Linked DNA regions of Homo sapiens: regions 2 and 3 are each linked to region 1. Evidence: fine-mapped expression QTL. A gene starts in region 1. Each other region holds a variant in brackets. All regions are shown on one strand. Distances are between the middles of the regions.

Region 1 (2,758 bases):
GCCCTTTTCTTTCTTCCTTTCCTTTTCTTCATTTCCTTTCCTTTCCCTTCCTTCCTTCCTTCCCTCCCTCCCTCCCTCCCTCCCTCCTTTCTTTCTCTTTCTTTCTTTCCTTTCTTTCTTTCTTTTTCTTTCTTTCTTTCTTTCTCTTTCTTTCTTTCTTTCTTTCTTTCTTTCTTTCTTTCTTTCTTTCTTTCTTTCTTTCTTTCTTTTTCTTTTCTTTTCTTTTCTTTTCCCTTCCTTCCTTCCTTCCTTCCTTCTTTCTTCCTTTTTCTTTCCCTTTTTATTGACAGGATCTCACTCTGTTGCCCAGCCTGGAGTGCAGCAATCTCGGCTCATTGCAACCTCCAACCCCTGGGTTCAAGCAATTCTCCTGCCTCAGCCTCCCGAGAAGCTGCCAAGAGGCTAATTTTTTTTTTCTCCTGCCTCAGGCTCCCAAGAGGGCAATTTTTTTTTTCTTCGTATTTTTAGTAGAGACAGGGTTTCACCATCTTGGCCAGGCTGGTCTTGATCTCCTGACCACGTATCCACCCACCTTGGCCTCCCAAAGTGCTGGGATTACAGGCGTGAGCCACTGTGCCCAGCCTTGTCTTTCTTTTTAAAAGAGGGCCTGGCACTTCAGTTAAGTCTTTCTGGATGATCCAGGTCACCGCTCCAAATGGAAGTCACATGCTTGGTTGTGGAGCCAGTGGTATGGGCCCTCAGGGAGTATTTAGAACTCTACACTAAATGGCCCCAGTGGTTCTGCTTTTTGACACTTCCTTTTGTACTTTCTGCCACCCCCCCATTCTGAGATCCCAGTTATCTTCCCAATTCTTATAGCCCTTGGCATGCTTCTAGCAATGTCTTCTCTAAATGGCCTTGAGCTGGGAAATTTGATAACCAAATGTGTCAGAATTGTGCATAAAGCAAGAGTACTGAGTTATTTCTTTTATCATGAGTACAGTACGGAGCCTCCTGACTTTGTATCCCGTCATTTGCCTCATTCTGGGTTCTCCGCTACTCTCCAGGCCGCTGAGGTCCATGGATGCATAAGCCCTAGGAATGAGGAGGGTGCAGTGGACATGAATTGCTCTTCCTAGATCCTTGCTGCTTTTGCTCTAGAGAAAAGGATGGGATACCAGAGCCTGTCCTGGCTGACTCCTCCCTCAAAGGGGCTCGGGGGAGATGGGAGCACAGGGTGGGGCCAGCTGGGTCAGTGGTGCCTGAAGCTTCTGAGGGAGAGGAGAGTGGCTGGGCCCCACTGATAGTGTGCAGGAGGCTGAGGAAGGGACACTTGCCTCCTCCTCACTCTGGGTGACGATGGCCAGTGTAGACTGGAGAGAGCCGGAGGGACTGGTCTCCCCTCAAGGCCCGAAGCAGGACTGGCACCAGCGGTGAGATGGGCACCTGGGGTGGGGGCCAGGGGTCTCAGCCCATAAACACCCCACACGCCACAGCAGCACACAGGGGCTCCTTTAAATACACAGCTATGGGGACTCCCAAAATGCAGACGTACACTTGCACTCACAAGGGACGCACTTCCATAGCTGTAACAACCCATCAGGGAACTGACCACACACACTCCGGCGGGAGGTCCTCTTCACTTCCTTCCCTCCACGAAGATCTCTCCCCTTCACCACGGACACAGTGACATGTGCTATCCAATTGTGACAAACACATCATCTCTGAATTTGGACACTGGGGTCCCATTTCAGAAGGTGACAACCCTCACACCAACAACTGCACCTACTTTCTTACAGGGTTGGATGCCTATAACATGCCTGCATGGTGGGACAGCAAGCGGCTGATTGCCCGCACACACTCAGATGCACGCTTGCACACATGCTCACACATGCTTACATGCACACTCACACTTGCCTTCAGACACACATGGGTCCAGGCAGGGCCCTGGCTTGGCCTGACCTGCTTCCCCTGTGCTTTCTGCAGCTGCAGGGGGTGCTCTGCCCTCCTCTGCGGGGTTTCCACCCCCTCTGTCCTTGGGCCTTGGATTCTGGGGGGCTGGTGGACTGATGCCAACATCCTCCTCTCTCTCCCCAGGATTTTTGTCAACCGCAGCCTGGCGCTGGGGAAGATTCGTTGCTTTGGCTTCGACATGGACTACACTCTGGCTGGTAGAGAGGGCTGGAACACAGCGTATTGGGAGCTGGAGGGAGCAGGGGTGGGCAGCTGGGCACCAAAGCCCTGATTCTGTCCGGGCCTCTGCAGCCTACAAGTCCCCAGCTTATGAGGCCCTGACCTTCGAGCTGCTGCTGGAGCGCCTGGTGTGCATTGGGTACCCGCATGAGATCCTGCGCTACACCTACGACCCCACCTTCCCCACCAGGTGTGTGGCTCAGGACAGGTGGGAGGCCACCCGGCCTTGGTACCCCCACCCACAGTGCCCCCCGACCCCCCGTCTGCAGGCGGCTGGTGTTCGATGAACTCTATGGGAACCTGCTGAAGGTGGACGCCCACGGGAATGTGCTGCTGGGTGCCTATGGCTTCACCTTCCTCTCGGAGTAAGGGACAAAGGTGCCGGGAGAGTGGCAGGCCAGGAGGGGAGGACTGCTCACCTTGGGGGAGGACAGAGGGAGGGAGGGAGGAAGGACGCAGGCCCACGGTGGAGGCTCAGCACAGAAGGGATGCGTGGTGGTTGGAAGGGATGGCCAGAGCCTGGACAGGCCTCCAGGAGGCACTGGGGAGGGGTCATTGGCTGCACCCAGCCTACCCCTCCTCAGGGCAGAGATCTGGAGCTTCTACCCCAGCAAGTTCATTCAGA
Region 2 (2,758 bases), 41 kb before region 1:
GTCTCTAATAAAAATACAAAAATTCACTGGGTGTGGTGGCAGGTGCCTGTAATCCCAGCTACTTGGGAGGCTGAACCCAAGAGGCGGAGGTAGCAGTGAGCCGAGATCACGCCATTGCTCTCCAACTTGGGTGACAGAGCCAGACTCTGTCTCAAAAAAAGAAAAAAAAAAAAGGAAAGGAAAGAAAAGAATAACTATGACAATTAAAAAAAATTTTTTTAAAGAGATGAGGTCTCACTGTGTTGTCCAGGCTGGAGTGCAGTAGTGCCATCACAGCTTACTGCAGACTCCAACTCCTGGGCTCAAGCGATCCTCCCATTTCAGCCTCCCAAGTAGCTGAGGCTACAGGTGTGCCACGGTGCCTGGCTAACTGTGACAATTTAAGAATGGCCAGTTTCTTTGACACTCTTCCCATAGAGGTGGGATCTATGTCCCCGCTCCTTAAAACTGGATGGGCTCTAACTGCTGTGAGTCATAGAATTTGGTAGAAGCGACTGCCAGTTTCCAGGTTCAGGTCTTAGGAGTCTGGCAGCTTCCACTTCCTGTGTCTTGGAACACTTGCCCTGGGGAAAAGTAGCTTCCATAAAAGAAGCCTGACTACCCTGAGACTGCTGTGTTGTGAGGTAGTCCAAGCAGATTCATGGAGAGGAATCAAGATCTCTTTCCCCTTCTCTCTCCAGCCAACATCCTTGGCAGAGCTGTGAGCCAACAGCCAGCCCCAGCCTGCCAGCCGTGTGAGCAAGCAGTCTTGGAAGGTGATTCTACAGCCCCAGCTGAAACACTCCAACTGATGCCATGTGAGCCGAGAAGAGCAGCCAAACTGAGCCCTTCTCAAATCCCTGATCCTCCAAATGTAGGCAAAATAAATTGCTGGTTTTAAGCCACTAAGTTTTGATATAGATTGTTATGTAATAATAGATATCAGAGCTCTAGCTAAGGCAGGTGCTGAAGGGAAGATGTTTTTATCATTCATAGATATCACAAAATATGTATATTTAATGCATTTCAAAATTTTAGTTCTAACCAATACAATTCTTTGGAGTTTACTTTTCCCGTTATAGAAATGGTACATTATAAATCACCTACCTGCGAGTCTCAATCTACTCTTGTTATTTTTCTATGTTCCGTTCTAGTATTTGCTTTAAGTGCATATTTAATTTGTAATTAAATATGTAATTATGAAATAGATATAATTTAGATTTCTCGTGTCATGTCATTTTTAGATGGGATTGGCCAATGGAAATCAGACAGTAATTACAGTGGTATGAAATTAGTCATAGCTTGCCTTAATTAATTTTTTGTTTATTTTTTTTTTTGAGGCAGAGTTTCGCTCTTGTCACC[T/C]GGGCTGTAGTGCAGTGGCATGATCTTGGCTCACTGCAACCTCCGCCTCCCAGGTTCAAGCAGTTCTCCTGCCTCAGACTCCCGAGTAGCTGTGATTACAGGAGTGTACCACCAAGCCTGGCTACTTTTTGCATTTTTAGTAGAGATAGGGTTTCACCATGTTGGCCAGGCTGGTCTCAAACTCCTGACCTCAGGTGATCCCCCTCCTCAGCCTCCCAAAGTGCTGGGATTACAGGCATGAGCCACCTCACCTGGCCTGCTTTAATTTAACACTCATTTGCTTTCACTTATTTACTCTTTGCAATAACTCAATCTGGAAGTTTGATCTTACAGATGAGAGGACTAAGGCATTGTAGAGGTAAAGAAGGCAATCCAAGGTCACACGGCCAGAACATTAGGGAATGTACCAGTGCAGTGGTGGGGAAAGTGAAAGCAAAGCGGAGACAGTTTACCAGGTGCCCACACACAGAGAAAACTTCCAACCAGTAAGGTGGGAGCATTTCCAAATCTAAGACAAATGAGACTACTAGATGCCAATTGGATTGCTCCTCCTAAGGAGAATCTGAGTGCATGGAAAATTATTTACGGACCATTGAAACCATTTTGGTGTGTGCTTTGGCAATAGCTCCTCCTGAAAAGCATGCAGCCGGCAGAAGATCTGGATACCACAGAGACTGAGATTCTACATGTGTTCAGAGACCGGAGTCCCTACCACAGAACCTGTGACCTGTGCTTCTAGGGTCTTCAAAGTCAATAAAAATCAGCAGGTGATTGAAGGAGAAGGAAAATAAAGCACAAGGGAGGTGATTTGGGGCTTTGTAGAAATGCCTCTGTTACCCATTTCTGGGGTTTTATTGCTGGAGCCTTGTACTCTTGGTGAGATCTCCTAAGGTGAAGTGTTGGATTTAAAACAGTCTGATAGGCCAGGCGCGGCGGCTCACACCTGTAATCCCAGCACTTTGGGAGGCCAAGGTGGGCGGCTCACTTGAAGTCAGAAGTTTGAGACCAGGCCAACATGGTAAAACCCCGTCTCCACTGAAAATAGAACAATTAGCTGGGCATGGTGGTGGGAGCTTGTAATCCCAGCTACTCGGGAGGCTAGGCAGGAGAATTGCTTGAACCCGGGAGGCAGAGGTTGCAGTGAGCCGAGACTGCACCACTGCACTCCAGCCTGAGCAAAACTCTGTCTCAAAAAATAAAATAAAATAAATAAACAAATAAATAAAACAGTCTGATAGGCCAGCCTGGTGGCACAGGCCTATAGTCCCAGTTACTTGGGAAGTGAGGAGGGAGGACTACTTGAGCCCAGGAGTTTGAGGCCGCAGTGAGCCGAGATCACACCACTGCACTCCAGCCTGGGTGACAGAGTGGAACCCTGTCTCAAAAAAACGAACAAAACAAAACAGTCTTGAGGTGC
Region 3 (2,758 bases), 44 kb after region 1:
CAGACCCCGCCTCCTGGCACAGAGGACCACGCCCGGCTCTGCCTGGAGCCAAATGTGGATCAAAACAGCGCGCAGCTTCCCACTGCTGGTGAAAACCCGAGCAAGGGGCCTCAGTTTCTTTATCCGGAACGTGGTGACAATGACATCTCTTTGCAAGGCTGCTGCAGGGCTTTCTGGAAATACGCCCGTGAGGTATCTGGGCCTGCGCACAGCCTCCCCCGCCCAGGACCCAGACGTCTACCTGGGGGTCCCGTCTGCGCTCCCGGGATGGAAAACGCCCAGGGGAAACTTAGGCAGGCGAGCGGACGGGCACCTCCCGCGGGACGAACTCACTCGGTGGCCTCCTACTTCCCCGGCCGTGTTCCAACGCCTGAGAATAACGGGAACAGCGGTCGTACTCACCGACAGCGGCAGCAGCGGTAGGCCCGGGCCCCACCATGACTCTTCAGTGACAGTTTTTCTTCAAACGCCGCGCCTGTAGCCAGGACCGGCGTGCCGCGCGTCCACGCGTCCTCATTGGCTCCTGCGGGTTTGAAACTCGCTAGTCGTCAGCACGGGAGGGCGGGACAACAGGCAATAGGCTCTTTGCGGTTGGCTCTGGCCTTGAGAACCCGACCTTGGGGCCCTTTGATTGGAAGAACGTGCAGCGCACCTCGGCATTGAGGGCGGCTTCCTCGGGGCGCGGCGCCGCCCGCCTCTGAGTGCGCCTGTGAGTGCGCCTCCGAGTGGGCGTGGGACCCTCCGTGGGGGCCTCAGCCGGGCTGGTGGTTGGGGGGCGGTTACGCTGAATCCAGCTGGGGTTGGCGCGCCGGGAGTCCCTGGGCGGAGAGACAGGGCGGTCCTCCCAGGATGCTGGGGCCGCTACCTGATTCTGTCCTTTCAAAGTCTCAGACTCACAGGAGCTGTGAAAAAATAATATTATAAAGAGGACATATGGGTCTTATGCATCTAAAGGCTCCTAGTTCTTAGTACTGCAGGGTGGCTCGTTTAATTGTGGTAAAATATGCATAACATCACATATACCATTTTAACCATTTTAAAGTGTTAAATTTTTCAAAAATGTGCAGTTTAGTGGTATTAAGTACCCTCACATTGTGGCACAGCCACCACTACTGTCCTTTCCAGAACTTTTTCATCTTCCCAAATGAAACCCTGTACCCGTCACTAACTCCGCACTCCTCCCTCCCCCAGCCCCAGGCAATCACCATTCTAGTTTCTGTCTCTATGGATTTGACAACTGTAGGTGCCAT[A/G]TAAGTAGAATCATGCAGTATTTGTTCTGTGACTGGCTTGTTTCACTTAGCATAAAGTATTCAAGGTTCATCCATGTGTAGCATGTGTCAGAATTTCCTTTCCTTTTAAGGGGGAATAGCATTTCGTTGTGTGGAGATGCCACATTTTGCTTCTTGGTCCATCCCTCTCCGGACACTTGAGTTGCTTCCACTTTTTGGCTATTGTGAATAATAATATGAACATGAATGCACAAATAACTCTTTGAGACTCTCCTTTTCATTCTTTTGGGTATATACCACGAAGTGGTATTGTTGGATCAAACGGCAATTCTATTTTTAATTTTTTGAGAAACTGCCTTACTCCTCTCACGGTGATCTCTTGTTCAAGGTATATTTTCGATTTCACCTGATCAGCTGACTATAAGGCCATAAGGCTAACGGAGAAACGCAGGCCTAGTTTCTCCTAGTTACTAGGAGATCGCAGGCCTCGTTGTCCTGAATCCCTAGACACACTTCATTCCCCTTGTTTTAATCCTAAATTTTTTTTCTTTTGAAGTTTGTCCTGTTTCATCTATTCTCCAGTTTCTTAAAGAGGTCTGGAAAATGCTTTTGGCTCCTTGTGTATGAAGGTTCCTCTTCCATGGATGCTGGAGAAGTCGTGTGTGGAGGGGCAGTCATATCTGGGCACCTGTTGGCCAGGTTCAGCTTACCAGTTGGGTACTCAGCAGGGCATGAAGCCACTGCAGCAGCCCTTCTCTTTAGCCGTAAATAGGGAGTTTGGAAGAGAGCCAGGGTTTCTGGATTTATGCATTTTGATATTTTCAATAGTGTATTAAATGTTTAAAATAGGAAAACTGATCATTATTTTTGTTAATGACTGAGAAAGGGACTCCTTCACCAACAGTTTCAGAAAAGTGAAGGCGGTTTTGTTTTGGTCTTTGTAGAATCTAGGTGGTTGAATGCATGTCAGTTGTAGAAGTCACCTTGCCTGATATCCCACGCAGTGCTGGAGTATTCCACAGACCCCATGTAGGTACTGCACCTTTGCAGGTATACTGCTGGTGTTGGTGAGCTGCCTTACCTGTCCTGTTATTGGAGACCCCTGCTTATTAGGAAACTTAAAATGAACTCAAATGAGCTTCCTTGCTTACTGGTCCTAGTCCTTTGGAGCAACATAGGCCAGTTCTGCCTCGTTTTTTTCCATCCTTTGGGTATTTGACGGTCTATTTTGTAGGACACAAAATGTGGGAAAATAGCTAGGCAGGTTTAAAAATTCTCAACTCTACCAAGCATGGTGGCTTATGTCTGTAATCAATCCCAGCACTTTGTGAAGCTGAGGCAAGAGGATTGCTTGAGCCTAGGAGTTTGAGACCAGACTGGGCAACATAGCAAGACCTCGTTTCTTAAAAAAAAAAAAAAAATTACAAAAATTAACCAGGCATGGTGGCACACACCTGTAGTCCCTTCTACTCAGGAGGCTGAGGTGGGAGGATCACTTGAGCCCAAAAGTTGAAGGCTGCAGTGCACTG

The links.
Region 2: its variant is fine-mapped to the expression of NT5DC4 in whole blood (TOPMed, PIP above 0.99).
Region 3: its variant is fine-mapped to the expression of NT5DC4 in whole blood (TOPMed, PIP above 0.99).

What each region holds. Positions count from the first base shown.
Region 1 is chr2:112,719,781-112,722,538 of GRCh38, forward strand. NT5DC4 (5'-nucleotidase domain containing 4) reads left to right here and starts at 1,240. Exons shown (of 17, transcript NM_001393655.1): 1 at 1,240-1,373; 2 at 2,038-2,111; 3 at 2,206-2,323; 4 at 2,403-2,498; 5 at 2,703-2,758. The coding sequence starts at 1,300.
Region 2 is chr2:112,679,042-112,681,799 of GRCh38, forward strand. LOC102724955 (a long non-coding RNA gene) reads left to right here. Exons shown (of 4, transcript XR_001739643.2): 3 at 681-853; 4 at 1,967-2,095. Among named protein-coding and RNA genes, the nearest start is that of SLC20A1, 34 kb to the left of the region's middle. The variant T/C (reference allele first, on the strand shown) is at 1,342.
Region 3 is chr2:112,764,160-112,766,917 of GRCh38, forward strand. It overlaps CKAP2L (cytoskeleton associated protein 2 like), which reads right to left and starts at 450. Exons shown (of 9, transcript NM_152515.5): 1 at 403-450. The coding sequence starts at 439. RefSeq lists an enhancer at 80-219 and a silencer at 670-829. The variant A/G (reference allele first, on the strand shown) is at 1,251.